Homo sapiens: one gene and its partners. The protein of the gene in region 1 purifies or fractionates together with the protein of each later gene. This does not show direct contact. Each region holds a gene or a part of one and is shown in the gene's direction. Other genes may lie near its edges. The genes, in order: TBC1D9, CPT1A, PIP4P2 and MRS2.

Region 1 (7,028 bases):
CTCCATTATTGGAAAAAGACTTGCCTCCAAAGCTAGTCAATCAAAGAAGTATGTAAATATGGTTGCCTTAATTGGTTACTTTCCTTTCCAGTTTTTGAGATTAGGCAACTATTGGGCAGTAGGTACCTCAGCCCACTGAAGGAAACATGTACATTGTTTCCCAGTAGGTTAGGAAACTTGTGTCCTATAGAGCTGTATACTTTGCTGCCCTCTTTCTGCCAGGATCAGCCTCATTAATAATATCCTGTTAGGCAGCCATCCAGAATTGGAACTAGCATTTCTGTCAGAAAGCATTCTCTTATATCTGTGTTTGCTCTATAGCAGAAGTTGGCAAACTATAGCCCGTGGGCCAAATCCAGCCCACCACCTATTTTTTACAGCCTGTGAACTAAGAATGGTTTTTTACATTTTTAAATGGTTTTTAAAAATCAAAAGTAAAATATTTTTGCCACATGAAAAGTATATGAAATAGAAACTTCAGTGCCTATAAATAGTTTTGTTGGAAGACAGCCAAGCTCATTTATATATGTATTGCTTATGGCTGTTTTCGTGCTGCAGAATTGAGTGGCTAAAACAGAGACAGTATGACCTACAAAGGTTAAAATATTCATTGTCTGGTCCTTTACAAAAGACATATGCTGGCTCCTGCTCTCTGTGGATGATAGGTCTACAAAGATGTGATTCAACTCATATATGTCTCCAAATTTATATATTAATTCATATACTGTTTTGTCTTACATTAATCTAGCATTGTCTTTTGGCTTGCTACTGCAGTAAGTTACCTTCTAATTCATCATTAGGTCAACTTTATCAACTCACCTAAGTCCAAAAGTAAATGTAGGTTTCTCCTGGGTTCTTTTGCCTCTTAAGTTTTGCCATCCCCAAATAAGCACAACAGAGACCTGCACCAAGAGACCTTACTTTTAGACTGTAAGCACCAAAGTGATTTCTGTAGAGAGAGTGAGCCAGGCTCAGTCTTATGACTGGCAATACAAGTTGAGGGTAGGAGCTTTGGACAGAACACTAGCTATGTATAGTGTTGTCTAGGTGAGTGCAGGCAGGTTCCTATGTGAGCCTCAGTTTCCTTGTGTGGAGAATGGAGATGATAGCTATCATATTGGGTGTAATTAGGACCTAATAAGAGAATGTAATAAGACATTTTGCATAGTGTCTTAGTGCATCCTACATATTCTTAATATTATATATTGGAAGTAATGGCAAAAACCACAATTACTTTTCACCAACCTAATACCATTAGCAGTCACATTCTGGCTACAAAATGTTCTCCACACATTTCTTAGTAGACATACATCTCAGAAAGGGATTCTCTTGTTTTAGAAATGCTTCAGAAATGGTCACATGCCAATAGCATGTAATATCATTGAAATATGCTTTTTGAAGAAGGTTTTCCAGTGCCAAAGATGCTATTGCTTTGCATGGAAATGTTTCAGGTACGGGTAAAATAAGTAAGCCAAAACTGTCTTAGAATCTTACCATATAAAGATAACTAATAATTCACCTTGAAATATTTCAGTTTTTTATTCAAATTGTACACATACACACCACAGATATATGTATATAGAACTGGGATCAAACTACCTATACAGTTTTGTATCCTGCTTTTTTTACTTGAAATCCAGTGAGAATATTACTTTGTCATTAAAATTTCTTTGAAAATGTGGTTTTTAAATGGCTATATAGTATCCATTGCATGGACTTACCATACATTAAATATTTTTTAAAAATCCACTTGTTGCCTACATCATTTTCAACATTAAGAGGGGAGGAATTTCCCAACAACACATAGTACACTTTCCTCACTGTGTCTTAAAAGCTACTGAGATTAATTTGACACGTAATACAGTAAAGGCCACATCTCTGTCTGACCAGCCAGCTTTGGGTGGTTGAAGAAGTGCTGGAATGCACCCTAACAGCCAACAAACTGCATGGGAAACTGAGGGCATTGTACACCTCTCTATTTTGAAGTCCCTATGTGCCCTGTAATGTCTCGTTTTAAGAAGACAAAACAGTTATAAGTGGGTTCCTTAAAAGTCATATTTTTGAAGTACCAAATTATAAATCTGAAGTAGTTTTATAGCATGTAACATTTTAGCAAAAAAAAAATTTTCTCTCTTCTGCCAACATAGATTTTAATTTCCTTGAAAGAGTGAGTTCTGGATCTTTTGCAGGGTCTGGCAAAAAAAATCTGTCTCATATATGCAAAGTTAAATGATAATGTAGAAAAGACAGGAGAGAAATCAACATTCATTGGGGCAAGCACTACCATTTTTTAAGTACTAAAGGCTATGTGGCATTATCCCATTAATTTTTTTTTTTTTGAGATGGAGTTTTGCTCTAGTTGCCCAGGCTGGAGTGCAATGGCACCATCTCAGCCCACTGCAACCTCTGCCTCCTGGGTTTAAGCAATTCTCCTGCCTCAGTCTCCCGAGTAGCTGGGATTACAGGCATGTGCCACCACATCCGGCTAATTTTTCTATTTTTAGTAGAAACAGGGTTTCACCATGTTGACCAGGATGGTCTTGAACCCCTGACCTCAGGTGATCTGCCCACCTTGGCCTTCCAAAGTGCTGGGATTACAGGCATGAGCCACGCTGCTTGACCCTCCATTAATTTTTTATTGTACACTGAACCCCAGCTGTGAGAAAGAATTCTGCGGAGGTCCTTTACCTGGAGATAGTGTTGTCAGATAAAATTATGGGACATGTAGTAAAATTTGAATCTCAGATACAAAATAATTTTCTTAGTATAAGTATGTCCCCTCTAATGTCAGGGTTATACTTATCCCCCCCAAAAATTGTTGTTTATCTGAAATTGAAATTTAACTGAATGTTTTGTTTTGTTTTGAGGAGTTTTTTTTTGTTTGTTTGTTTGCTAAATCAGGCAACCCTACTTAGAGAGTCTTCTATTTTCCACTACAAATGCTAATTCCATGGTCATATTATATAACATTCTACTTTTTTCTTCTGAACCATTTCTTGGTAGTTGTTGGATTGGATAGCAGAAGCAAACAGGGTGCAGATGATGGCTTTGTTACGGTGAGCCTAAAGCCAGACAAAGGTAAGGATATTCTCTTCTATATGTTTACCTTCTTGCTGGTTGTACACTTGTTTTTTGGCCTGTAAGCACTTATTTCTTGACATTTGGGTTGTAGGGAAGAGAGCAAATTCCCAAGAAAATCGTAATTATTTGAGACTGTGGACTCCAGAAAATAAATCTAAGTCAAAGAATGCAAAGGATTTACCCAAATTAAATCAGGTAAGTGCTTAAAGTTCAAATCATTCGCTTCAAACCTGGACACTCTTTTTTCTATGACTGAAAAGTCATCGATAAATGTAGACTCAATACCCATCAAAAATAATAACTGGGGCCTTTACTTAGTATCCATTTGGACCTATTTTGTGCATGTATTTATGCATCAAAAATATGCTCCATTGTGAAAAAACGACTTCCTCAGAGGAAATGTGAACCACAACATATTCCATTTTGAGAGTAAATGCATCTTATTGCAATCATTAAAAATACCCTCAGATACTCGAAAGACAAACACATTGCTGTTTTCAGATCACCGTGCTTAGCTATAAAGGTGTCTGCACATTTTCCTTAAAAACCTGGTGAAATGAGGAAGAAAAAAACAATATAAATAATTATAGGCTGAAAATGCTAAGTTTTGTAATTGAAGAACAGAAGTCATCTGGGTGGAGACTGAAAGCACTAAAGCATTACTTCTGTCCAGGGAGATGGGGCATGTGTCGTGGGAGGAGGGATTGGAGCTAACCTTGGAAAAATTGAGGTGCATGCTAAAGTGTGTAGACGTGAAAATAGATGAGTCTCGGATTTCCTTAAGATGTTTCAAAAAGGGAAAAGAGAACAAGAAAAAAGTTACTGAGCCAAATGTATGACATAGTCCTTCTTGACTCGAGGTGAGCTGTACATGGATGTTTACTTTTTCATTCCAACTTTCATAGATGTTGGAAAATTTTCAAATTAAAAAATTGGGAAAATAAGCTGGGTGTGGTGGCTCACACCTGTAATTCCAGCACTTTGGGAGGCCAAGGCAGGAGGATCACTTAGCCCAGGAGTACAAGACCAGCCTGGGTAAAATGGCGAAACCCCATCTCTACAAAAAACGCAAAGATTAGCAGAGTATAGTGGTGTGTGCCTGGGGGGCTGAGGTGGGAGGTTCATGTGAGCCCAGGATGTTGAGGCTGCAGTGAACCGTGATTGCACCACTGCACTCCAGCCTGGGCGACAAAGAGAGACCCTGTCTCAAAAAGAAATAAAAATTAAAAATAGAAACATCAATAGGAGACTTTAAACATGTCCATCCAGCCTAGGCGGAGGACTTTCCAGGGATCTTTAGGCGTTCTCATTTAAATGGCTTTACAGTCCACTTCAGTGCTGCCTTTCTGCTCCCCCAAGATTTCACATTGTGTTTTTCCAAATCGCTTTTCAGGGGCAGTTCATTGAACTGTGTAAGACAATGTATAACATGTTCAGCGAAGACCCCAATGAGCAGGAGCTGTACCACGCCACGGCAGCAGTGACCAGCCTCCTGCTGGAGATTGGGGAGGTCGGCAAGTTGTTCGTGGCCCAGCCTGCAAAGGAGGGCGGGAGCGGAGGCAGTGGGCCGTCCTGCCACCAGGGCATCCCAGGCGTGCTCTTCCCCAAGAAAGGGCCAGGCCAGCCTTACGTGGTGGAGTCTGTTGAGCCCCTGCCGGCCAGCCTGGCCCCCGACAGCGAGGAACACTCCCTTGGAGGACAAATGGAGGACATCAAGCTGGAGGACTCCTCGCCCCGGGACAACGGGGCCTGCTCCTCCATGCTGATCTCTGACGACGACACCAAGGACGACAGCTCCATGTCCTCATACTCGGTGCTGAGTGCCGGCTCCCACGAGGAGGACAAGCTGCACTGCGAGGACATCGGAGAGGACACGGTCCTGGTGCGGAGCGGCCAGGGCACGGCGGCACTGCCCCGGAGCACCAGCCTGGACCGGGACTGGGCCATCACCTTCGAGCAGTTCCTGGCCTCCCTCTTAACTGAGCCTGCCCTGGTCAAGTACTTTGACAAGCCCGTGTGCATGATGGCCAGGATTACCAGTGCAAAAAACATCCGGATGATGGGCAAGCCCCTCACCTCGGCCAGTGACTATGAAATCTCGGCCATGTCCGGCTGACACGGGCGCCTTCCCGGGGGAGTGGGAGGAGAGGGAGGGGAGGGATTTTTTATGTTCTTCTGTGTTGAGTTTTTTCTTTCTTTCTTTTAAATTAAATATTTATTAGTACCTGGCTTGAAGCCTAGTGTTTTCATAATGTAATTCAATGAAAACTGTTGGAGAAATATTTAAACACCTCAATGTAGGTACATTACACTCTTGTTGCGGGGAGGGGATTTACCAGAATACAGTTTATTTCGTGAATTCTAAAAAACAAAAAGATGAATCTGTCAGTGATATGTGTGTATTATAACTTATTAATCTTGCTGTTGAGCTGTATACATGGTTTAAAAAATAGTACTGTTTAATGCTAAGTAAGGCAGCAGTCATTTGTGTATTCAGGCTTTTTAAATAAAATTAGAGCTGTAAGGAAAATGAAAAGCCACAAATGCAAGACTGTTCTTAAATGGAAGGCATAGTCAGCGAGGGTAAATCCTATACCACTTTAGGAAGTATTAAAAATATTTTTAAGATTTGAAATATATTTCATAGAAGTCCTCTATTCAAAATCATATTCCACAGATGTTCCCCTTCAAAGGGAAAACATTTGGGGTTCTAAACAGTTATGAAAGTAAGTGATTTTTACATGATTCCAGAATAACACTTGTATTGACCAATTTAGACAGATACCAGACCAATTTTGCATTTAAGAAATTGTTCTGATTATTTACGTCAACTCATTAGAATTCAGTGAAAAGTAACAGTCTTTTGTCACAGAGAATCTGAAAGTAGCAGCAAAGACAGAGGGCTCATGACAGGTTTTTGCTTTTGCTTTGCTTTTGTTTTTGAAAGAGTAAAAGTACTGATGCTTCTGATACTGGATGTTTAGCTTCTTACTGCAAAAACATAAGTAAAACAGTCAACTTTACCATTTCCGTATTCTCCATAGATTGAAGAAATTTATACCACATATCGCATATGACCATCTTTCCATCAAATCAATGTAGAGATAATGTAAACTGAAAAAAAATCTGCAAGATAATGTAACTGAATGTTTTAAAAACAGAACTTGTCACTTTATATAAAAGAATAGTATGCTCTATTTCCTGAATGGATGTGGAAATGAAAGCTAGCGCACCTGCACTTTGAATTCTTGCTTCTTTTTTATTACTGTTATGATTTTGCTTTTTACAGATGTTGGACGATTTTTTCTTCTGATTGTTGAATTCATAATCATGGTCTCATTTCCTTTGCTTCTTTGGAATATTTCTTTCAACACATTCCTTTATTTTATTATACATTGTGTCCTTTTTTTAGCTATTGCTGCTGTTGTTTTTTATTCTATTTACAGGATGATTTTTAAACTGTCAAATGAAGTAGTGTTAACCTCAAATAGGCTAAATGTGAACAAATAAAATACAGCAAATACTCAGATACAGCTTTTTATCTTTGTGCTTGAGTTCCTGCCTAAGGCAATAACATTATTCTTTTGACAACTTTTGCAGGGGAAATTATATCAGGCAACCATTTTGATTAAGTAAATAAATTTTATAGGCAAACATAGAGAGAGAAATACAATTTGTAGTATATCAATGACTATATTTAAAATAAGGAATATAATTGTTATCAGTTATCTAACTTAAAATGCTTATCCATAATGATCAGTGATATTCAGCTTTTTAAAATATGCTTGTTGGTTGCATGTCTGTCTTCAAAACCACAATGAGATACCATCTCACACCAGTCATTAAAAAGTCAAAAAAGAACAGATGTTGACGAGGTTGTAAAGTAAACAACACAAATATACCGTTGGTGGGAGTGTACCTTAGTTCAACCATTGTAAAAAGCAATG
Region 2 (7,028 bases), on another chromosome or scaffold:
CCTCGGTCCCGATGCCCCCTCTGGATAGGGCCAGATCAGCATCTTACCCATGGGAGTCATTCACAGGAAGGGCTCCGTACGTGCCGGCCACCGTCAGCGTCACCTTTGTTCCCCGAGCGGGGTGCACTGAGGCCTAGCGTGTTTCTAGGCTTATTCGCCCTGCGGGCCGCCATAGCCAAGCACTCCTAGAGAGAAGAAGGTGGGGAGAGAGCCAGATGGCCCCGATCTGGAAGGGTGGGCAGTGGCAGAGGGTCCTGGAGGAGCTGGAGTGAGAGGGACCCGGGAGCACTCGAGGAAGCCCAGCTGGTGGGTCTTCCAAGAAGGAAGTGGGCATCACACCAGTTCTGTGTATTCAAATAAGACGGGCACGGAGACCTCCTTGTGGAGGGGTCACATGGGCATCTGTGGAATGCACCTGGGGGCTGATGGCCTGGGTTCCGACTCTGCCTCAAAATAGCTGTGACCTAATCTTTCCGTGCTTCAGTTTTCTCATCTGAAAAATAGGTACAGTAGCATTGAGAAGATCAGTAAGTTGGTACACAGAAAAGGTTTGGAGCAGAGCCTGGCATGAGGGACGCACTCTTACGCACTTACTGTGACCTGGGCTGCCGGAACTTACCTAGGGTGGTTCCTGTAGAGGGGAGGGAGGGTGTGTCAGGGAGCGTGGAACAGGGTGATCTGGGTCTGCTGCTTCCTGGCGGCTTTGCCCACGGGGCCAGCCTGCAATCTGGCCGTTCATTTAGTCAGCATTTATTGAACAAAAAATACCCACCGCTCCCCATGCTGTGGTCTGGAGACCAGGAGCAGGTGAGAGTCCTTCCAGCAAACAGTCTCAGATGGGGAACATCATCAACATGGAGTTTTCCTTCGAGAAATTCTGAAAAACTGCAAAGGTTTGATTGTGTCATTTCAAACATCACGCTCCATCGCTGCAGGTCGGGCTGCCTTTAATCGTATTTCATCTTCACTGCAGAGTTCCCTGGGCCAGGTGTCGTCAGGCCTATTTTGGACGTGGGAAAAATAAGCAGTCTCTTGATGCTGTGGAGAAAGCAGCGTTCTTTGTGACGTTAGATGAAACTGAAGAAGGATACAGAAGTGAAGACCCGGATACGTCAATGGACAGCTACGCCAAATCTCTACTACACGGCCGATGTTACGACAGGTACCGTCCTTACCTTCTGAGAGACAGGAGTTTGCCCATGAGCTTGGAAGAAATACCCTGTGTGCCTGACACTCACCCCTAAGTATCTATAATGCTAAGAAAGAAGGTGGCATAAAAATATAACCTTCAGTTTTATTTTATTTTATTTTTTGAAATGGAGTCTTGCTCTGTCACCCAGGCTGGAGTGCAGTGGCTTGATCTCGGCTCACTGCAACCTCCACCTCCCAGGTTCAAGCGATTCTCCTCCTTCAGCCTCCCAAGTAGCTGGGATTACAGGCGTGTGCCACCACGCCTGGCTAATTTTTGTATTTTTAGTAGAGACAGGATTTCACCATGTTGGCCAGGCTGGTTATGAACTCCTGATCTCAAGTGATCCACCCACCTCAGCCTCTCAAAGTGCTGAGATTACAGATGTGAGCCACTGCGCCTGGCCAACCTTCAGTTTTCTTCCCTCTGCCAAAACTATCACACATACACAGCCTGAGCTGCAAATCTGAGATTCTTCCCTCCTCTGTGCATGACCACCTTTGTTTGGAGATGCTCATGAGATGCAGGGCTGCCAGGTCCCTGGACTCAGGCAGGGGAGAGTGGCAAACAGGGCTAGGCACAGGGTTAGGCCAGGGTGTTGGCATGTGGCTATCTCAAGTCCTCTTTTTCTTATCTGTAAAGTGTTGGCCAGCCCCGCCCCCTGCAGGGTGGAGCCAAGGATTGGCTGATGAAGGGGTCATGTGCCCACGGGAAGAGCCTCCCACCTCTCCCCAGTTGCCTTGCGATAACAACAGGTCCTGACTTCAGGCTGCCAGGATATAAGCGCTCATCTTTGTGTCTGGGACAGGGAAGAAATGAGTGATTCAGTGTCCTGTTTGTACTTTCACCCTCACTCCACAGAGACTGAGTGTCTGCTCACTGTTAGAGGGACAGGTGCAAAGTGAATTAGTCCATCCAGGATGAAGCAGAGAGGTGCAATGTCTCCTCATTGTTGCCTCTTTAAACACTTAAGTTCCACACATGTGTGTTTCACGTAGGTGGTTTGACAAGTCGTTCACGTTTGTTGTCTTCAAAAACGGGAAGATGGGCCTCAACGCTGAACACTCCTGGGCAGATGCGCCGATCGTGGCCCACCTTTGGGAGGTGAGTTTTCACACTTTTCACTTGAATGTGGAAGTTGCTTTTGAAAATCCAAACCTGGCCAGGCGCAGTGGCGCACACCTGTAATCCCAGCACTTTGGGAGGCCGAGGCGGGCAGATCACCTGAGGTCAGGAGTTCAAGACCAGCCTGGCCAACATGGTGAAACCCCGTCTCTACTAAAAATACAAAAATTAGCCGGGCATGGTGGTGCATGCCTGTAGCCCCAGCTACTTGGGAGGCTGAGGCAGAAGAAATCGATTGAACCCGGGAGACAGAGGTTGCAGTGAGCCGAGATCGTGCCACTGCACTCCGGCCTGGGCGACAGAGCGAGACTCTGTCTCAAAAAGAAAAAACAAAAAAGATAATCCAAACCCCACAGTCAATTTAGTTTTGTAATATTTGCGTGATTATAGAATATGAATTTTTCACTTGTACTAGTAATGCACATGAAGTTAAATCACTAGATTAAAGGCATCCCTGTCTTCCTTTCCCATAACTTAGGTCCCTTGAACAGCAGTGCATCTCCTGCCATCTCCTTAGGGAACAAAAGAGTGAAATGGCAGTTGACTCTCAGGCCGCAGCTTCACAGCAGAAGTGAAGCTCGGTTTTTCCTGGAATAAACTATCCCTTATGTGCTGGATTTCCTAGTGTTTCCTACCTACCGCATTTTTTAGGCCAAATAGAAGCAAGCATGTGAAAATCTGGGTTTATAAACATGCAGCGTGTCTTTTACCTAAGACATCATTTTAATTCTTAAAATTACCAGGTTATTTGAAAACCACAAACCCCTGTCCCCCTGCCTGCACCTGTGGATTGGCCTCTACCATTGTTTTTTTTTTTTTTTTTGAGACAGGGTCTTACTCTGTCACCCAGACTGGAGTGCAGTGGCACAATCATAGCTCACTGTAGCCTTGACCGCCCAGGCTCAAGACATTCTCCCACCCCAGCCTCCCAAGTAGCTGGGACTACAGGTGTGTGCCACCATGCCCAGCTAATTTTTGTATTTTTTGTAGAAACAAGGTTTCCCCATGTTGCCCAGGCTGGTCTTGAACTCCTGGGCACAGGGGATCTGCCTGCCTGGGCCTCCCAAAGTGCTGGGATTACAGATGGGAGCCACCACACTCAGCCTTTTTTTTTTTTTTTTTTTTTTAATAATTCGTTACTCTGAACTGTTTGACCTGTTCCGTGTTTGGCATGAGAAATTAAATGAAAGTTTTGTTTCCTTAACTCACCGGTCAGGTTCTTGTTTAAAGTTGCTAAATTCTAGGATCATCATCCGTAGACTTGACACAGAAAATACTGTGGTCACTTGTTGTGATGAGACTTGAGATCTTTTTCTTTTAAAGCAACAAGCCCCTTTGAGATTCACATTGACTATAAAGACCATCTTTTTGCAGTGTTTTAAATTTTCCTGCTGGCCTAATAAATGAAGTGGAATAAAATGACCTGAAAGTCACGGCGTGTGTGGGAGACAGGGCCCAGCTGCAGGCTGAGCACCTCGCTGTTCTTGATAGGGCATGGAGCCGGGTTTGTGTGTCTGAAATTAGAAATTAGTAGTGGCCAGGCGCGGTGGCTCACGCCTGTAATCCCAGCCCTTTGGGAGGCCGAGGCAGGCGGATCACGAGGTCAGGAGAACGAGACCATCCTGGCTAACACGGTGAAACCCCGTCTCTACTAAAAATACAAAAATTAGCCGGGCGTGGTGGCTGGCACCTGTAGTCCCAGCTACTCAGGAGGCTGAGGCAGGAGAATGGCGTGAACCCGGGAGGCAGAGCTTGCAGTGAGCCGAGATCACGCCACTGCACTCCAGCCTGGACGAAAGAGTGAGACTCCATCTCAAAAAAAAAAGAAAGAAATTAGTAGTAAACTTGTGAAGACATCATAATGTATGACCTTCTTTTTTCTTTAAACTTCTGTGAATGTTTTGAATTTTGACTTTTTTTTTTGAGATGGCGTCTTGTTCTGTCACCCAGGCTGGTGTGCAGTGGTGCGATTTCAGCTCACTGCCACCTCTGCCTCCCCGGTTCAAGTGATTCTCCTGCCTCAGCCTCCCGAGTAGCTGGGATTATAGGCACATGCCACCATGCCCGGATAATTTTTATATATATATAAACCTGACCTCAAGTGATCCACCCGCCTTGGCCTCTCAAAGTGCTGGGATTATGGCATGAGCCACCACGCCTGGCCTTGACGTTTCTTTTTATAATATTGTGTCTGTCTATTTTTCCCCCAAGAGATAAACAAATTCTGGTGCCAGTTTTTTCTTGCAAAGTCTTCGCACTCACTCTCCTCTCTGCCTGGAAGGCTTTTCCCCCTGGCTTCCCCTGGCTCCTGGCCCCGTCAGGTCTTCCTTAGGTCTCAGCTGACCTCACTTCCCCTAGGAATGGCACTGCCCTGCTACCCTCTCCCAAGACTAGGTTAGGGGCTCCTGTCTCATCTTCCTCTACCTCTTTTAATTGTCTTACTTCTGGTTGGAGTCTTGGCAAAACCTCCAGCCACTCCTTCAGCCAAGGGAGGTTTTCTATGTAGGAAAAAGGATAAAAAGGAAAAAAAAAAACATAGTGCTCTAGGCTTTAAGACACCAGTATGACCCTAGGACATTAATACCTGATAAAAAGCAGCCAATATTAAAAGGGCTTTTCACCACCACCAGGGTTCTTTGGCGATGTCGACAAAAGCTGAGAGAGCCTTTTAGCTACAGAGCGCATTGAAGATCAAGCTGCCTTCAGTGTCTCTGGACGTAGCAAGAAGGCACGCTTTAATAAATCTCTGCACAGCATAATAGCCCGGGCTTGTTATACCCCAGGCCAAGGACTTCCCGAGTCCTATATGCCTAAGAGCTGTTGTTTGGCAAAAGAAAAAGAGTCGGGACCATAGGCAGCTGGATCACACAGGGTACATTTATCAAGTAGAGAAATCTACTGGATATTTACAAGATCAGGCTTGTTTTTTAAAGTTCTCTGGATAAGGATAAAGGGATTTTATCTTAGACCAGGGTGGGCACGTAGAAGTAGTGGTGTTTAGTTGTTAGCGTCCAGCAGACAGGATGGCCTGACTCCAGGGACCCCTGGCTGGGGGCTTATGTGATCCATACACAGATGGGGACTGACCTAGTCTCACATGGGGGCCCAGTGCAGTCCCTTAAAGACAGATCTAGTCAAACTTGAGTCTGTTTGTTCTTGTTCTTGTTCTATTTTTATTTTTTATTTTTTGAGACAGGGTCTTGCTCTGCCACCCAGGCTGGAGGGCAGTGGTGCAATCTCAGCTCACTGCAACCTCCAACTCCTGGGTTCAAGTAATTTTCCCACCTCAGCCTCCCGAGTAGCTGGGACCACAGGTGTGCGCCACCACGCCCAGCTGATTTTTGTATTTTTTGTAGAGACGGGGTTTTGCCACATTGCCCAGGCTGGTCTCGAACTCCTGGCTTCAAACAATCTGCCTGCCTCAGCCTCCCAACATGCTGGGATTACTAACATGAGCCACCACACCCGGTCTTGCTCTTGATTTATTTCTGATGTTTCTGTGTCAGGCTCTTCTGGAGCTCTGACCCAGAGCAGGTGGAACCTGATCAAGTCTGTTCGTTCGCTGGCTCAGGTCAGCCTGGATTGTGACCCCCACGTATTAGCGGCACCTTCCACCCGCCCCGCCGCCTCGCCAGCCGACAGTCACCCCGACCTTGTGTTGTTGTTTTTACCTCCCTCACTAGAATGTAAGCTTCCTGAGCACAGGGATTCCTCTTTTAAAAAAACTTAATTTTTTTAGTTGAGATATAAGTCACATACCTTAAAATCCACCCTTTAAAAGTGTACAATTCAGTGGTTTTTAGTATATTCACGAGGTGCTTGTGCAACAGTCACTGCTTAGCCTCCCGAGTAGCTGGGATTACAGGCGTGCATCGCCACACCCACCTAATTTTTGTATTTTTGGTAGAGGCGGGGTTTCCCCTTGTTGGCCAGCTTGGTCTCGAACTCCTGACCTAAAGTGATCTACCCGCCTTGGCCTCCCAAAGTGCTAGGATTACAGTCGTGAGTCACAGAGCCCAGCCTAATTCTGTACTATTTTTATCACCTCCAAAAGAAATCCCTCATTCCTTTCTCCCCCAGGTTCCTGATGACCACTAATCTTTCTGTGTGTATGTATGTGCCTATTTTGGACATCTTATATAGATAGAATCATACAATATGTGGTCTTCTATGTCTGGCTTCTTTTTTCTTTTCTTTCGCTTTCTTTTCTTTCTTTTCTAGAGACAGGGTCTTGCTCTGTCGCTCAGGCTGGAGTGCAGTGGCACAGTCATGACTCATTGAAACCATGACCTCCTGGGCTCAGGTGATCTTCCCACCTCAGCCTCCTCAGTAACTGGGACTACAGCCATGTGCCACCACACCTGGCTAATTTTTAAAATTTCTTGTAGAGATAAGATCTCACTATGTTGCCCAGCTGGTTTGGAACTCCTGGCCTCCAGCAATCCTCCCACCTTGGCCTCCCAAAGTGCTGGGATTACTGAAGTGAGGCACCGCGCCTGCCTGCTTCTTTTCACTCAGCATAATGTTTTCAAGGTTCAGTACGTTGTAACACATACCTGGAATTCATTCCTTTCTAGGGCTGGATAATATCTCATTGTATGGATTGACCACACTTTGTTTATCTCTTCATCAGTTGATGGGCATTTGTGTTGTTTCCACTCTTTGGCTATTATGAATAATGCTGCTCTGAACATTCTGTACAAGTTTTTGTGTG
Region 3 (7,028 bases), on another chromosome or scaffold:
ACTTCTACTTCCACAAACATATTATGCAGTTTCTTTCTTCTGTTCCTGAGTCTTATCCTGCTAGACCTAGAATGGCCTGGCTACTCCTTTCCTTGCCCTTGTCTACCTAGAAAACACCTATTTAACCTAAAAAATTAGCTGAAACATCCCTTGCTTCTACTCTTCATCTGTAGAAACATTCTGTGGCACAAAGGTTATTCTGCTGCTTATTCCTTGAACAAATTTTCTTTTCACACCTGAACAATTCTAATGTAATCAGCTGAAATGACTTACTCCCCCATCTATTCACATTTTAAGCTATCCTTAAGTCTTGTGTAATAAAGCCATCCCTGGCTGCCTTGTCTGAAAATTGTAATGTAAAGAACATTGTTTGCCGCCTTTTCCCCTTATAAATTCCTGTAGCACTAGCTACACTACCATTTTCCAGGTGTTCTTCATAATCCTAGTGTTTCATAAGGTGTTTTTGTGAAGCGAAAGATTAATAATTTGAAGAGTGAATAGTTAGATGTTTGAGAGCATTGAATGGTCTTTTCAGCTTGGAGATTCACTGTCCACATTTTTGTATATGCCCTTGACTTTCACATGCAGTAATATAAAAAACCAATTAGCTGTAAAAATCATCCTTTTAAATGCATAGCTCAGCTCATATGACAGTTGGGGACCAAAAATGAAGATTAAGTGACAACCAGGACTATCCTGAAGGTATATGCCAACACTAGGGATCTACAGCCTTGGAAGAATGAGAGAGAAGGCATTGGCCTCACACAAGGTAGCGGGGTTAGAATACTGCCTCCTCCCAATAAAGTACTTAAAGTACTCTTCCCCTGGAAAAGAGTGAGTTAGGAAAAAGAAATCAACCAGAAAAGGAAGATTGCAGAGGAAAAAATTTATAAGAACAGTGAATTTAGGTTTATATTTTTATATCACTTATGCGATCTAGGAAAACCTAGTTCCAGAAACTGACTTAAAGTTTAGGGTTAGTATCAGTCTAGGGAGCCTGCGAAAAGCAAATGAAAGTTCTGTATGTAGGAAAGCACCCCCAAACTATGCATGCCAAAATTTTTTTATATTGAGATCTGCCAAAATAAGTTTTCAACAAAAGTTACTAGTCATAGGAGAAAACAAGATTCCAGAAGCATAATCAACATTGACAACAAACAGCATAATTAGACCTCTAAAAACTTCAGATTTATAATTATTAAATATGGAGTATGTTAAAACTATGCCTAAGATGTTTTAAAATAAAAATAAGAGAAAACATGTAAGACTATTTAAAAATTACCAGGTACTCACAGAAATGTATATGTGAGTGTTTGTAGCAAATTTGACACATGCAACAGCTTGGATGAATTGAATTTATGCTGAGTAAAAAAAAAAACTTAGCCATACAAGGTTACCTGCAGTAAGATTTCATTTATGTAACATTTTTCAAATGACAAAATTGTAGAAATAGGGAACAGATTAATGATGGTGTGGCAGGCACAGGGTGCGGGATGGGCAGAAAGGAGGGTGTGGTTATAAAAGGATCCTTACAGTGATAGACTGTTCTCTATTTTAGCTGTGGCAATAGATACATGAACCTAAACGTGATAAAATTGCATAAAATTAAAGAAAAATCCATACTCATATACCTGAGAAATCTGAATATTGGTGGATTATATGAATGTTAATATCCTGTTTATAATATTGTATTATAATTTGCAAGATTTACTATGGGGGAAATAGGGCAAAACGTACATGGTATTTTTATGTGTTATTTATTACAACTGCTTGTGAATCTATAATTGTCTCAAATAGAAATTTGCAAAAAATAACCAGATAGATATAGAAAGAAACAATAGAACTTCTAGAAATTATTACAGAAATTAAAATGCACGTACGGTTTAAAGAACAGATCAGCTAAAGGTGAAGACTAAAGTTGTGAATTGGAAGATAGAGGTAAGTGAATTACCCAGAATCTAGCATAGAGAGACAAAGATGAATGTAAGATTAAGAGAAAATATATTATTAAGATGCCAATTATATATCTGATCTGGAAGGAACAAATAAAGAATGGGATATGGCATTTTAGGAGATAATCTCAAATAATTTTCAGATCTATGAAAGATATGAATTTTTATATTCAAAAAGAACAATGAAATCCAAGCAGGATAAGTAAATGTGTTACAGTGAAATTGTAGAAAACCTAAGAGAAATAGAAGGTAATTAAAAGCAGAGAGACAAAAGGCATATTTTCAATAAGAAAAAGATAACAGTTCTGTCAGCAAATGTCTCAACAGCAAAAATAGAAGCCAGAAAACAAGTTTTAAAATACATCAAAAATACTAAGAGAAATTAACTGTCAAACTGGTATTATACACCTATCTAAACCATCAAAGAATAATGAAGGTAAAATAAGTATATTTTCAAAAGCAAAACCAACAAACTTACAAACAAAACCCAGGGTATCTACCATCCTGGTACCCTTACTAAAAAAAAAAAAAACTGCTAAATGATGAACTAGGGAATATGAACAAATATTCCAGAAGAAATTTCTGCAGTGCAGGAAGGAAAGGTAAACCAAGAAATTGTAACAATTCACCAGAAACACTGACTGTATAAAATAGCCAAAACGACAGTACCAATTATATTAATGCTAATAAGTTTTGAGAAACAAAAATACAATAAAACTGAAATATTGGAAAACAGTAGCATTAAGATGCTAGTGGAATGTTTGGTGTTAAAACTTTCTAAAATCTTTATATTTATCAGGAAGATGGATTTAATAATTGACTTTAGTTTTTAAAACATATGAAAGTTAAAATTTTAAGTGCAACTGCCAAATGAATGAAATAAATTGTAAAACTTTCAGAATAATAAGAGGAAAATGAAATGAAAGAGTCATGGTCAATATAAAAGAAGTCTGGAAATAAAGGTAGAAAAGCAGAAAATACAGGAATAGTAGAAAGCCAAAATAAGGTGTCAGAAATAGTCCATGTATATCATTAGACTAATCTTGCTAGTAAAACTTAACAGTAATGGTAAGACTAGATGTAAGAACAGCTATATACAATTTGAGGAAGGAACACATGAATATTAGAACATAGAATGAATGTATAAGGATAGAAAAAGATACAACCATAAATCACTAACCAAAGGAAAAGACATACCAGGCAAACACTAGCCAACATTAAAATGTAATGTTAATATCAATTAAAATAACAGAGACTGCTGTTTTCTCCTTCCTTTTATTAGTAGACCTCTGAATTTGACTAGCCACTCAGCTAGAGATGGATTTCCTAGCCTGTCTTGCAGATAGTGTGGCCATCTTTAAGTTAGGACCAATGGAATGTGAACAAAAGTGATGAGTACAGTTTTCTGATACTCTCCTTAAAGACAAAATTGCCTGTCTTCGTTTTTTCTCTCCTCTTTGAATTGAGTGGAAAAGCCAACTGGCAGGAATGTTGTTACCTGTGTAGAGTTTGGCAATACCAATCAGGGAGTACAGCTGACTACCAACCCTAGGCTGTACATTTACCTTTAAGTTTTATCTGCTAGAAAAATAAACTTATTTTTAAACTTCTGTATTCTGAATTTCTGAATGTTACGTTCCTTTCTCTCTACAACCTCACCAGCATCTGTTATTTTTTGACTTTTTAGTAGTATTAATTCTGACTGGTGGGAGATGGTATCTCATTGTGGTTTTTATTTGCATTTCTCTAATGATCAGTGATGTTGAGCTTCTTTTCATAGAATTGTTGGCTGCATGTATATCTTCTTTTGAAAAGTGTCTGTTCATGTCCTTTGCCCACTTTTTAATGGGCTGGTTTTTTTTTCTTGTTTAAGTTCTTATAGATGCTGGATGTTAGACCTTTGTCAGATGCATAGTTTGCAAAATTTTTCTCCCATTCTGTAGGTTGTCTGTTCACCCTGTTGATAGTTTCCTTTGATGTGCAAAAGCTCTTTAGTTTAATTAGATATCATTTGTTCATTTTTGCTTTTGTTGCAGTTTCTTTTGGTGTCATCATCATGAAATCTTTGCCTGTTCCTATATCCAGAATGGCATTGCCTAGGTTGTCCTCCAGGCAACCTATATAACTATAAATGTTATAGTTTACATTTAAGTCTTTAATCCATCTTGAGTTAATTTTTAAATTTGGTATGAGGAAGGAGTCCAGTTTCAATGTTCTGCATATGGCTAGCCAGTTATTCCAGCACCATTTATTGAATAGGGAATCCTTTCCCCATTGCTTGTTTTTGTCAGGTTTGTTGAAGATCAGATAGTTGTACGTTTGTAAGTGTGTGGCCTTATTTCTGGGTTCTCTATTCCGTTCAATTGATCTGTGTGTCTGTTTTTGTACCAGTAATATATATTGCATGTAGATACCACATATGTACTAAATATGTAAGAGATTTTATGATTAATAAGTGCTTGTTGGTCATTGCCTTATCCTGTGAGGAGATGGCACTTGAGTTGTGGAGTAGCAGTAGGTTATTTTTTTCAGAGAAGATTTCTCAGATGTAGTGACTATTTAATTTGAGTGATGAAAAGAGAGCACAGGTTTTCTAAGCAGAATTCATGCACTGAAATTAATGTACTAAAGTGTATTCTCTTGGCTCACAGAAAAGCCGCTCTAATATTCACTTAGAAACTTTTGACTTATTCAGTACATAATTTTAATAAGCTTAGTTGGCTTCTAATAAATGGTATATTACAAACTGCCAAATGCAGATGCACAGGCAGTGATAAGAAACAACAACCAGATGTGATGTATAAGGCAAGAAAAACCACCAGTGGATGCATAGAAATTAAAACCAAAAATAGACTAGGGCTAAATGTTACATAAAAGCAATGAATCCTGCATGCCCTAGTAACTCTAGATAGCAAGCTGTACAATATAGTAATTAATGGTGGTCCCCAGGTCATCCAGATGTTTGTGTTTGGGCTCAAGTACCCAGGAAAATTTACGATGTATATTTGCAAAAAACTTCATCAGTTTTTCAAAAAGATTTGGAAATTAAAGGAAATAATTTTGTATGCAAAATTAACCTATTTGGAATCACATGTTTCTAAATCATGCCTAGTAAGTGATGAATTTCTGTATTTTACTTATTCATCAGACATTCTTTGAGAGGTTATTATGTGTTAGGCATAATCTTGACACTGGCCACACAAAGGTGAATCAGATACTTCTGTGTCATTCACTAACACGATGCCTTGCATATGGTATATAGTAATAAATATATGTACGTTAAGACAGAGAAGAAAGTGCTAATTTGGCTACTAATCTCTGCTATAACTTATATCATTTTGAAAATTACCACAATTAGATACAGAGAGGGTGAATACTATTAGATTTGGAATTTCAATTGAGTAGCACAGTAGAGGGCTTTTAGCAGTATGTATTAAAAACAATTCAAAAAGTTTAATCCCTTTAATTTGTAATCCTAATTCTAAATTTAAAAATCTTAAGAATGATTAAAAATAAGCACAATGCTTTTAAATGATACTTTGTTGGCATTATGTATAATAATGAAGATACTTTAATGTACAATAGTAGAAAATTTTTTAATTATGTTATATTCATCCATCAGAATTTTAGTTTGAGAATATTATGGGAAAAAGTTCATGCTATATATTGGTAAGGTACAAAATTGGCTACAGGAAAGTATGCAAAAATACTGAGTGACTATTTTATGATATTGGGATTATAGGTAATTTTTTCTTTCCTTTTTCTTCATTGTTTCTTTCCTTTTTATTCTACTTTCTAAATTTTTTACATAAACACATACTCTTTTAACTGTAAAAAAATCAAATGCTATTTGTAAGATAGCTGTTTTTCCATTCTGAAATAGATTTTTTTGGAAATAAACTTTTATCTTGGGAGATTAGTAGGTACTACAATGGATTTCTGTGGATATTATCAATGACCAAGGCTTGAACTTTGTTTAAAGCCACAATAATATCACAAATTCACCCTGAACGATTTTGTCACCCATTAAAAATGACATGTTTAATGCATGTTCTTGTCTGTAAAGTTGAAGCAATGAATAAAAAGTATATAATATTACTAAAGCCATAGATAAGAACTCACAAAAATGAAATAGAGAATTTTTATGTAAATACTTAATGTTCTCTTTTGCTTTCATGAATTTGCAGCTCCTCAGTGGGTAGTGCACTTCCACGAAGACGCTGCTGTGCATATATTACCATTGGAATGATATGTATTTTCATTGGAGTTGGGTTAACTGTGAGTGTTACACTTTGATGTTAGAATTCTGTCCTCTCAACTTTATCAGTAGTCAATCATGAGGCCTGGGACAACCTTCAGGGATTCCTGAAGAGGCTGCCTCCTTGGCATGCCAGCACTAGAAGCTTCTGAATGATTATGAGCAATCAGAAACCCAATCCATGGACCTCTTTTTGATTGAACTCGCCCATCCAAGTGAAACGGTGTCTTTTTACCTCCAAAAGTCCTTACTGTTGGGGATTTTATCATCTATTTAGCAAAAGCCCATTTAAAAAAAAATCAGTGCCAGAACTAATTTTTATGGCTATGGGGTCTCTTATTATTCAAAGCAATATTCATTCAGCTACAGAGATCTAAAAAAACCACTCTTCTCTTTATCCAAATCAAGCAGAGATTTATTACCAATATGAGGATGGCTTGTTTTTAGAGAAGACTGGAGCTAAGCAGTTAGCATGGGGATTATGCCAGAAGAGGAAGATAATCTCTTTGGCTGCCATTTCCATGCTCCTTTGTTTGTCAGTACAACTAGTCCCTTATTATTAGCAATGTCCTATTGTGTCCCATGATAGTAAGAAGTTACATGGATTAAATTCCTTGTAGAGATAATATAGTTTAGTGTGCTTTTTTGTTTACTTCATAACATTTATAGTTACTACAAGTAGCAGTATGGTCTATCAGTTGCAGTCAACAGATACACCTACTCTTATAAGGACTTTGTGTATTCGGTCTGGGGGTATATTTCATAACAATCACATGTAAGCTGATACAAGTTCCCTAAGCAGATATTTTTTAAAGTTT
Region 4 (7,028 bases), on another chromosome or scaffold:
CTGGCTAACACAGTGAAACCCCATCTCTACTAAAAATACAAAAAATTAGCCAGGCCTGGTGGTGGGCGCCTGTAGTCCCAGCTACTTGGGAGGCTGAGGCAGGAGAATGGCATGAACCCAGGAGGCGGAGCTTGCAGTGAGCCTGGATCATGCCACTGCACTCCAGCCTGGCAGACAGAGTGAGACTCCATCTCAAAAAAAAAAAAAAAAAGGTGTGCCTATTCTGAGCCAGACTTCCTAAATTCCAATCTCACTCTGCCTCTTATTGACTAGGTGGCCTTGGACAAGTTACAATAACATCTTTGTGCCTTAGTTTTCTCATCTGAAAACTGAGCATAACCTACCATATAGAATTGTTATGAGGATTAAATTAACTCATATATAGAAAGCCCTTAAACTAGTGCCTCACATATAGTAAGCCTCAAATATATTTCATTAGGATTATTTAGGCTTGTTAACATAAGAGCTTTTCTTTATAAACTATATAAAATTAAATAACCCCCAGAATTGCGTTTAAAAGTTACCACTGTTATTCATTGTTCTGGAAGAGTTGGCCAATTTAGTTAAGAATACAAAATCAGGGCCAGGCACGGTGGCTCACGCCTGTAATCCCAACACTTTGGGAGGCTGAGGTGGGCATATCATTTGAGGTCAGGAGTTTTAGACCAGCCTGACCAACATGGTGAAACCCCGTCTCTACTAAAAAACAAAAAAATTAGCCAGGCGTGGTGGTGCACGCCTGTAGTCCCAGCTACTCAGGAGGCTGAGGCAGGAGAATCGCTTGAACCTGGGAGGTGGAGGTTGCAGTGAGCCAAGATTGCACCACTGCACTCCAGCCTGGGCAACAGAGCAAGACTCTGTCTCAAAAAAAGAATACAAAGTCAAACGTGAAATACTGAAAGTTAGTTCTTTGCAGGTGAAATAATTGCAAAGAACACTTAAGAAATTCATAAAGCTATGGAATCTGAGAAAGAAAAATTTAATTTGTGCTGTTTGAAATAGTTTAGAAAGTGAGCTGGTTACAAAGTAAATATTTTTTTCTTTATAATTTGTATGATTTAAAAAATTTTTTTAAGTTCCATTAAAGAAAAAAAGGGTACATATAAATATTGAGATGCAAAAATATTCAGCATATGTTGCTAATTTGGAAGGAGGGAGACTGCAAAGCAGTATGTATAAGTATGTTTTATTAGGAAAATGTTTGGAAGGATATTCAGTGAAATATTGACATGGTTTTCTCTAAAATTTGTCATTTCAGGTGATTAATATAGTTTTATGTTACGTATATTTATTTTCAAATTTTCTGCAGTGGGTTTATGTATTTGTGAAATATAAGGCTGAAAGCTAGACTATTACACAAATATAAAGCTTTCTTTGATATAAATTTTCCTTTAATGTTCTATGGAACTTATATATTCATATTAATTTTATTTTTGCTGATGAGAAGCAAGATAAAATATATATATTGTGAGTTTTTATTGTGTGATTAACACAGCATGTATATTTCCATGGTAGTAACCCAAGACCTATATTGTACTTAAACCTGTATGTTGGAGTGTCTTTCTGAAATGTGTCTGTCGTAGTAAGTAGTACAGCTCAGCACATAGTGATTCATTAAATGTTTCACAGCTTCAAACTTGACTGTGGATAAACATCACTGAAAGATAGTCCCCTACTTTGCAGGAAATAGGTGCATTTTCTGTATCAAATCCTCTCTTCAAACTATCAGAAGGGGTTCTGTAAATCTTTATTGATTCTGCAACACCCACCAAAGAGACTTTGGCCTCATGTAGACATTTAGATTCACAAGGCGGGCCATACTTGGTCCCAGTCTACTCAGAAGGATAAGGGACAGGAGAAACAACAGGGTAGTGTTAGGTGTTTCCTCTTCAAAAGAAGTCTTTGCAGCCATCCAGGGGCTTCTCTGGTCCTCTGAGTGATCGCTCAGTGACAAGGAGATAAGATTCTCAAAGGTGGATGTGAGATTCATCTTGGCTCGAATCCCCATGCCCCGTAGTGACAGTATCCCTTGTAACCATCGCAGGGGCACAGTGTCCAGGATTCTGGCTGGGAACATGGCCACAAGAGCCACCACAATCAGGAAAGGGCAAAGAGAGCTATTGCTTTTCACCTGATAACTGTAATTTGTTCGTCTTCCCAGTCCAGTGCAGTCTACCAGTCAATGGTCATTTTTACCATAAGGATTGTTACCTAGTAACAACACAACTGATACTCCTTTATCAACTTTCTAGAGGAACCAAGATAGAAAGTTAAACCCAGGTCTGATTTTTCCTATCAAAGGAAAAAAGGATTTTAAAAAAACCCTTAACTCATAACTGGATTTAATCTAAAGAAGGTCAGTAATGGTTTATATTTGCATTTCAACATTTTGGGGATATTACTTACAATACCATAAATTCTTAACTAAATTAGCAATACCATAAGTAGCATTCTAATTTGAAAGAAAATCATAATTTGTTTTATTCTCTATTTTCAGACAAAATTTGACAAACAGGGAAACGTTACTTCTTTTGGTGAGTGATTAGCATTCTAAATCATTTTTTAAACATTTAATGAGTGAATCTGATAGAAATCAAGAAATTGTAGTATTTTGAGTAAAATATTCTTTGCATATACAGGTGTGTTGAAAGAGATCTTTCTTCAGCATTTGTCCATCAGTCTTAATTGGAGCTGGCAATACTCAGACTGTGTGTATTCTCCCAGAATTGTTTTCTTCTAGCAGGAGCCACTTTTTGCTCTAACAGGCTATTGAAGGAATATTTGGGAGAGCAGAGGCTGGTGTAGAACTGGAGCCCAGAGACACACTCTTTTTCTCTTTTGTCTCTCTTGTTGGCGTCCCTTTCACTGCCCTCATTCATTCTCCTGAAGCATGTTTAAGGCAGAGTCACATAATACCACTGACATTGCAGTGGGTGACAAAAGATGAACAGGGCCATGTCACTGCATGGCAGCCACATGGAACTCTGCTGCTGATGGCTCTCTGTGGACAGCTACTTTAAAAAGTGAGACTAGGCATTACTTTACAGTGTGACTTCAGATGTGAGTTTCACATCTCCCTTGAGAATGAATCAGTCTCAGGTAATAAATTCAGCTTTTCTCATTTTTGTATTAGTCTAAGAACAAAGAAAATCAAGCTTATCTGTTCACATATATAAAATACTGAAGATGATGTTGTAGTAAAAATAGAAAATATAGTTGTGTACAGTTTATATTTAAGAGAGATAACCTGTCTCTAGAGCTGGACATTTATAGGTTCTAATGATGCATAGTTGTGGTTTCTGTATTAGTCTCAAGGGTCTTCTAAGTAGTGAGAAAGTTATGAGGTATAGATAAGAAAATCATTAGTTTGACTCTATTTAGCCCGAGTATGTTTTCTAGGTAAAAATGGATATTAAAAGACTTAATTTTAGTTTTTGTTTCTGGTAGTAACCAAAAATTGTCTTGATGGTGGTGGGAGGACTGCTCTGATGGAAAAATCTAAGCCATTTAATGTATTTGGTTTAGCCCTCTCTGTTTATTTCTTTTATAGAAAGGAAGAAAACTGAATTATACCAAGAGTTAGGTCTTCAAGCCAGAGATTTGAGATTTCAGCATGTAATGAGTATCACAGTCAGAAACAATAGGATTATCATGAGAATGGAGGTAAAATATTTTATTTTCATCTATGTTTCTCCAATACAATCTTATAAAAGTTACCTTCTAACTATCTTGATTAGTATCTAGGTTAAAAGTAATTTTGGAATAGAAATAGCTACCTGAAACATAGGATGTTTTATAGCTTAATATGCTATTATGAGTAGAACTCATTTTATATGGATTATATGCACATGTTCAATAGGCATAACACTGCTGTGTTTTAAGTTGGAAAAGCTCTGACTGTGGTGTTCATTCTCACTGTTGGGATTTACTCTCTAGTTCTGGAAACTATAAGACAATCCTGATTTATAATAGATATATATCCAATTGTGTACAGTTACATGTAATTATAGTATAACCTGAGCTACCAAAAATGTATTCTGGCTTTCTAAATAGCACAGGAATAGACATTAAATTTTATAGCCTTAATTTTTTTTTTGAGATGGAGTTTTGCTCTTGTTGCCCAGGCTGGCACGATCTTGGCTCACTGCAACCTCCACCTCCCAGGTTCAAGCAATTCTCCTGCCTCAGCCTTCTGAGTAGCTGGGATTACAGGCATAAGCCACCAAACCCAGCTAATTTTGTATTTTTAGTAGACATGGGGTTTCTCCATGTTGGTCAGGCTGCTCTGAAACTCCCGACCTCAGGTGATCCACCTGCCTCTGCCTCCCAAAGTGCTGGGATTACAGGCATGAGCCACCGTGCCTGGCCAGTTTAAATTTTTTTAATGGAAAACTTTCTGAAATATATTGTATTTTCCCTTACCTATTCAGAGCATGCCAAATAATAATTTGACTTTCTTTAGTGATTCAGAGTTAATGTGGGTTTCAGTTATTTTGGTGGGCTAATGTTTAGGTTCAAAAATAGATGAATGGTATTGGCCCTGTAGTGGGTATGAGACTTTCTTCAAAGAGTCTTTGATGGCAGATTTTTGTTCATTTTTCTAGAACTAATCAAAATAATAAAAAATGGGCCAGTATTGGTAGCATGTGCCTTTAGTCCCAGCTACTCAGGAGGCTGAAGTGGGAGGGTCACCAGAGACCAGGAGTTTGTGACCAGCCTAAGCAACATAGCAAGATCCCATCTCTAAAAATAAATAAGTAAATAAAAAATACTTTATCAAAAATGAAGCAGTCTTCTCCCATGTGATTTTCTTCAGAAATATTCTCTACTCTTGGAATCAGTAGCTAGCATTCTTCAAAACAGTGTCTCTTTCATGGAGAGACAGACAGGTATGTGAAAAAGCAAATTCAGCAGAATGATAATTGTGTAATCTAACTGGTGGGTATATGGTGTTCACTGCAATCTTTCAACTTTTCTGTATAAAAATTTTCATGAGGCTAGGTTGTGGTGGCTCACATCTGTAATCCCAGCACTTTGGGAGGCCGAGAGGGGTGGATCACCTGAGGTCAGGAGTTCGAGACCAGCCTGACCAACATGGTGAAACCCCGTCTCTACTAAAAAATACAAAAATTAGCCAGGCATGGTGGCGGGTGCCTGTAATTCCAGCTACTCAGGAGGCTGAGGTAGGAGAATAGCTTGAACCCTGAAGGTGGAGGTTGCAGTGAGCCGAGATTGCCCCACTGCACTCCAGCCTGGGTGACAGAGCAAGACTTCCATCTCAAAAAAAAAAAAGAAAAAAAAATTCATGATAGAATGTTGGAAAAATGTAAAAATAGAAAATTATCTCTAATTTCTATATCACTGATAAAGTGGCTACCTTTATCTACTTTTAACATACAAGATAACCAGTCTTTTTAGAAAAAATTCTAATTTCATATTGTTCTAAATTAGAGTAGTAAGGCTATGTTTCATCTTAATTTCAGATTTTGTTTATATGCTTTAGTGGTGTTTTAAAAAGGAAACTTCCATTTGTGCCAAACTAATTATGATTAAACTAAATCTTTTCTAAAAGTCTGCTCAATACCTGACTTTTAGGAAGACCTTATCTTGTTCCCTTTATTTATTTATTTATTTTTTCCAAAAAAGAAAGACGGAGTCTCGCTCTGTCGCCAGGCTGGAGTGCAGTGGCACAATCTCAGCTCACTGCAAACTCCGCCTCCCAGGTTCAAGCGATTCTCCTGCCTCAGCCTCTGAAGTAGCTGGGACTACAGGTGTGGGCCACCACGCCTAACTGATTTTTGTATTTTTAGTAGAGACGGGGTTTCACCATGTTGGCCAGGATGGTCTCGATCTCTTGACCTCATGATCCACCTTCCTCAGCCTCCAAAAGTGCTGGGATTACAGGCATGAGCCACCATGCCCGGCTTTCTGGGGGTATTTTTTGGTGTTTTTTTTTTTGTTTTTGTTTTTTTTTCATGATTACCCCAGAAGTCTTAGTAAATATATAATTTATGTGAATAATTCCAGTTTTATTGAGAGTGAGTTAGCAGTATCAAGACATATATTTTTTAAGTTTCTTTTCTTTTGAAAAAAAAAACCTTGATTTTTTTGAAAAACAAAAATGAACACTGATTTGGTTTAGTCTTAATCCACAATTAGTAAAGTATTAAACCAAATTTTATGAATGTTCTTTTTTCCTACAGCTCTACAATTTGCATATATATATGTATGTATACATATATATGTATATACATGCATGTGTGTATATACACTCACATATTTATATGTTTTGGTTTTTTTTTTTTTAACAGTATTTGAAAGCTGTGATAACTCCAGAGTGTCTTCTGATATTAGATTATCGTAATTTAAACTTAGAGCAATGGCTGTTCCGGGAACTCCCTTCACAGTTGTCTGGAGAGGGTCAACTCGTTACATACCCTTTACCTTTTGAGTTTAGAGCTATAGAAGCACTCCTGCAATATTGGGTAAGTCTGTTTTTATTTAGCTTCTTGGGTTTATTCTGATTTTGAAATGTCATTGAGTGGGAAGACAAGTTGGGGTATTGTTTCAATGGCATGTCCCCTGACCACATCCTGCCCCGAAACAAGTCGTCTCTAAGGATCCTACATGGAGATATCACTTAATTCTTAAATGTTATGACCCAGTCAAATAGAACTAAAGACTCTATGTATATTATAAAAATGCTTGACATGTGATAATTATTTTATTAAATCATTTCATCAAGTCATTTTTTGATTTGTTTGTACAATCCTTTGTTTGAGCCAGGTAAATGATGCATCTTTTTGAGACCTAGATTGACATAGGAATCACGCACAGTTCTTCCAGTGACTCCTCCTTTAAATTAAGAGTCCTTAGATGTCTGAGACTCCTGTCAGGCTCTAAACAAGGGTGGTTCTCTGCTTCCCTGACCCCACAAATCTTTCATTATCTTTTCTTCCTCCTGTTAAGTCAGGATGGTACTGTTCAGGAACTGGCTACATGCAAGAGTTGGTGCTGGGAGCATACTA

The links.
Region 2: the proteins of TBC1D9 (region 1) and CPT1A purify together in Homo sapiens (affinity purification with mass spectrometry; 2 studies listed by BioGRID and IntAct, with this or other methods). This does not show direct contact.
Region 3: the proteins of TBC1D9 (region 1) and PIP4P2 purify together in Homo sapiens (co-immunoprecipitation; 3 studies listed by BioGRID and IntAct, with this or other methods). This does not show direct contact.
Region 4: the proteins of TBC1D9 (region 1) and MRS2 purify together in Homo sapiens (affinity purification with mass spectrometry; 2 studies listed by BioGRID and IntAct, with this or other methods). This does not show direct contact.

What each region holds. Positions count from the first base shown.
Region 1 is NC_000004.12:140,620,364-140,627,391, reverse strand, and holds the end of TBC1D9 (TBC1 domain family member 9), read left to right. Parts: intron 1-3,003; coding exon 3,004-3,078; intron 3,079-3,172; coding exon 3,173-3,276; intron 3,277-4,474; coding exon 4,475-5,197; 3' UTR 5,198-6,610; downstream 6,611-7,028. UniProt on the Homo sapiens protein: May act as a GTPase-activating protein for Rab family protein(s).
Region 2 is NC_000011.10:68,775,905-68,782,932, reverse strand, and holds part of CPT1A (carnitine O-palmitoyltransferase 1, liver isoform), read left to right. Parts: intron 1-973; coding exon 974-1,162; intron 1,163-2,187; coding exon 2,188-2,293; intron 2,294-7,028. UniProt on the Homo sapiens protein: Catalyzes the transfer of the acyl group of long-chain fatty acid-CoA conjugates onto carnitine, an essential step for the mitochondrial uptake of long-chain fatty acids and their subsequent beta-oxidation in the mitochondrion.
Region 3 is NC_000008.11:90,995,856-91,002,883, reverse strand, and holds part of PIP4P2 (type 2 phosphatidylinositol 4,5-bisphosphate 4-phosphatase), read left to right. Parts: intron 1-6,139; coding exon 6,140-6,230; intron 6,231-7,028. UniProt on the Homo sapiens protein: Catalyzes the hydrolysis of phosphatidylinositol-4,5-bisphosphate (PtdIns-4,5-P2) to phosphatidylinositol-4-phosphate (PtdIns-4-P).
Region 4 is NC_000006.12:24,405,911-24,412,938, forward strand, and holds part of MRS2 (magnesium transporter MRS2 homolog, mitochondrial isoform b precursor), read left to right. Parts: intron 1-2,497; coding exon 2,498-2,534; intron 2,535-3,550; coding exon 3,551-3,663; intron 3,664-4,816; coding exon of another isoform or gene 4,817-4,889; intron 4,890-6,311; coding exon 6,312-6,485; intron 6,486-7,028. UniProt on the Homo sapiens protein: Magnesium transporter that mediates the influx of magnesium into the mitochondrial matrix and regulates magnesium metabolism. Also permeable to calcium, sodium and potassium ions.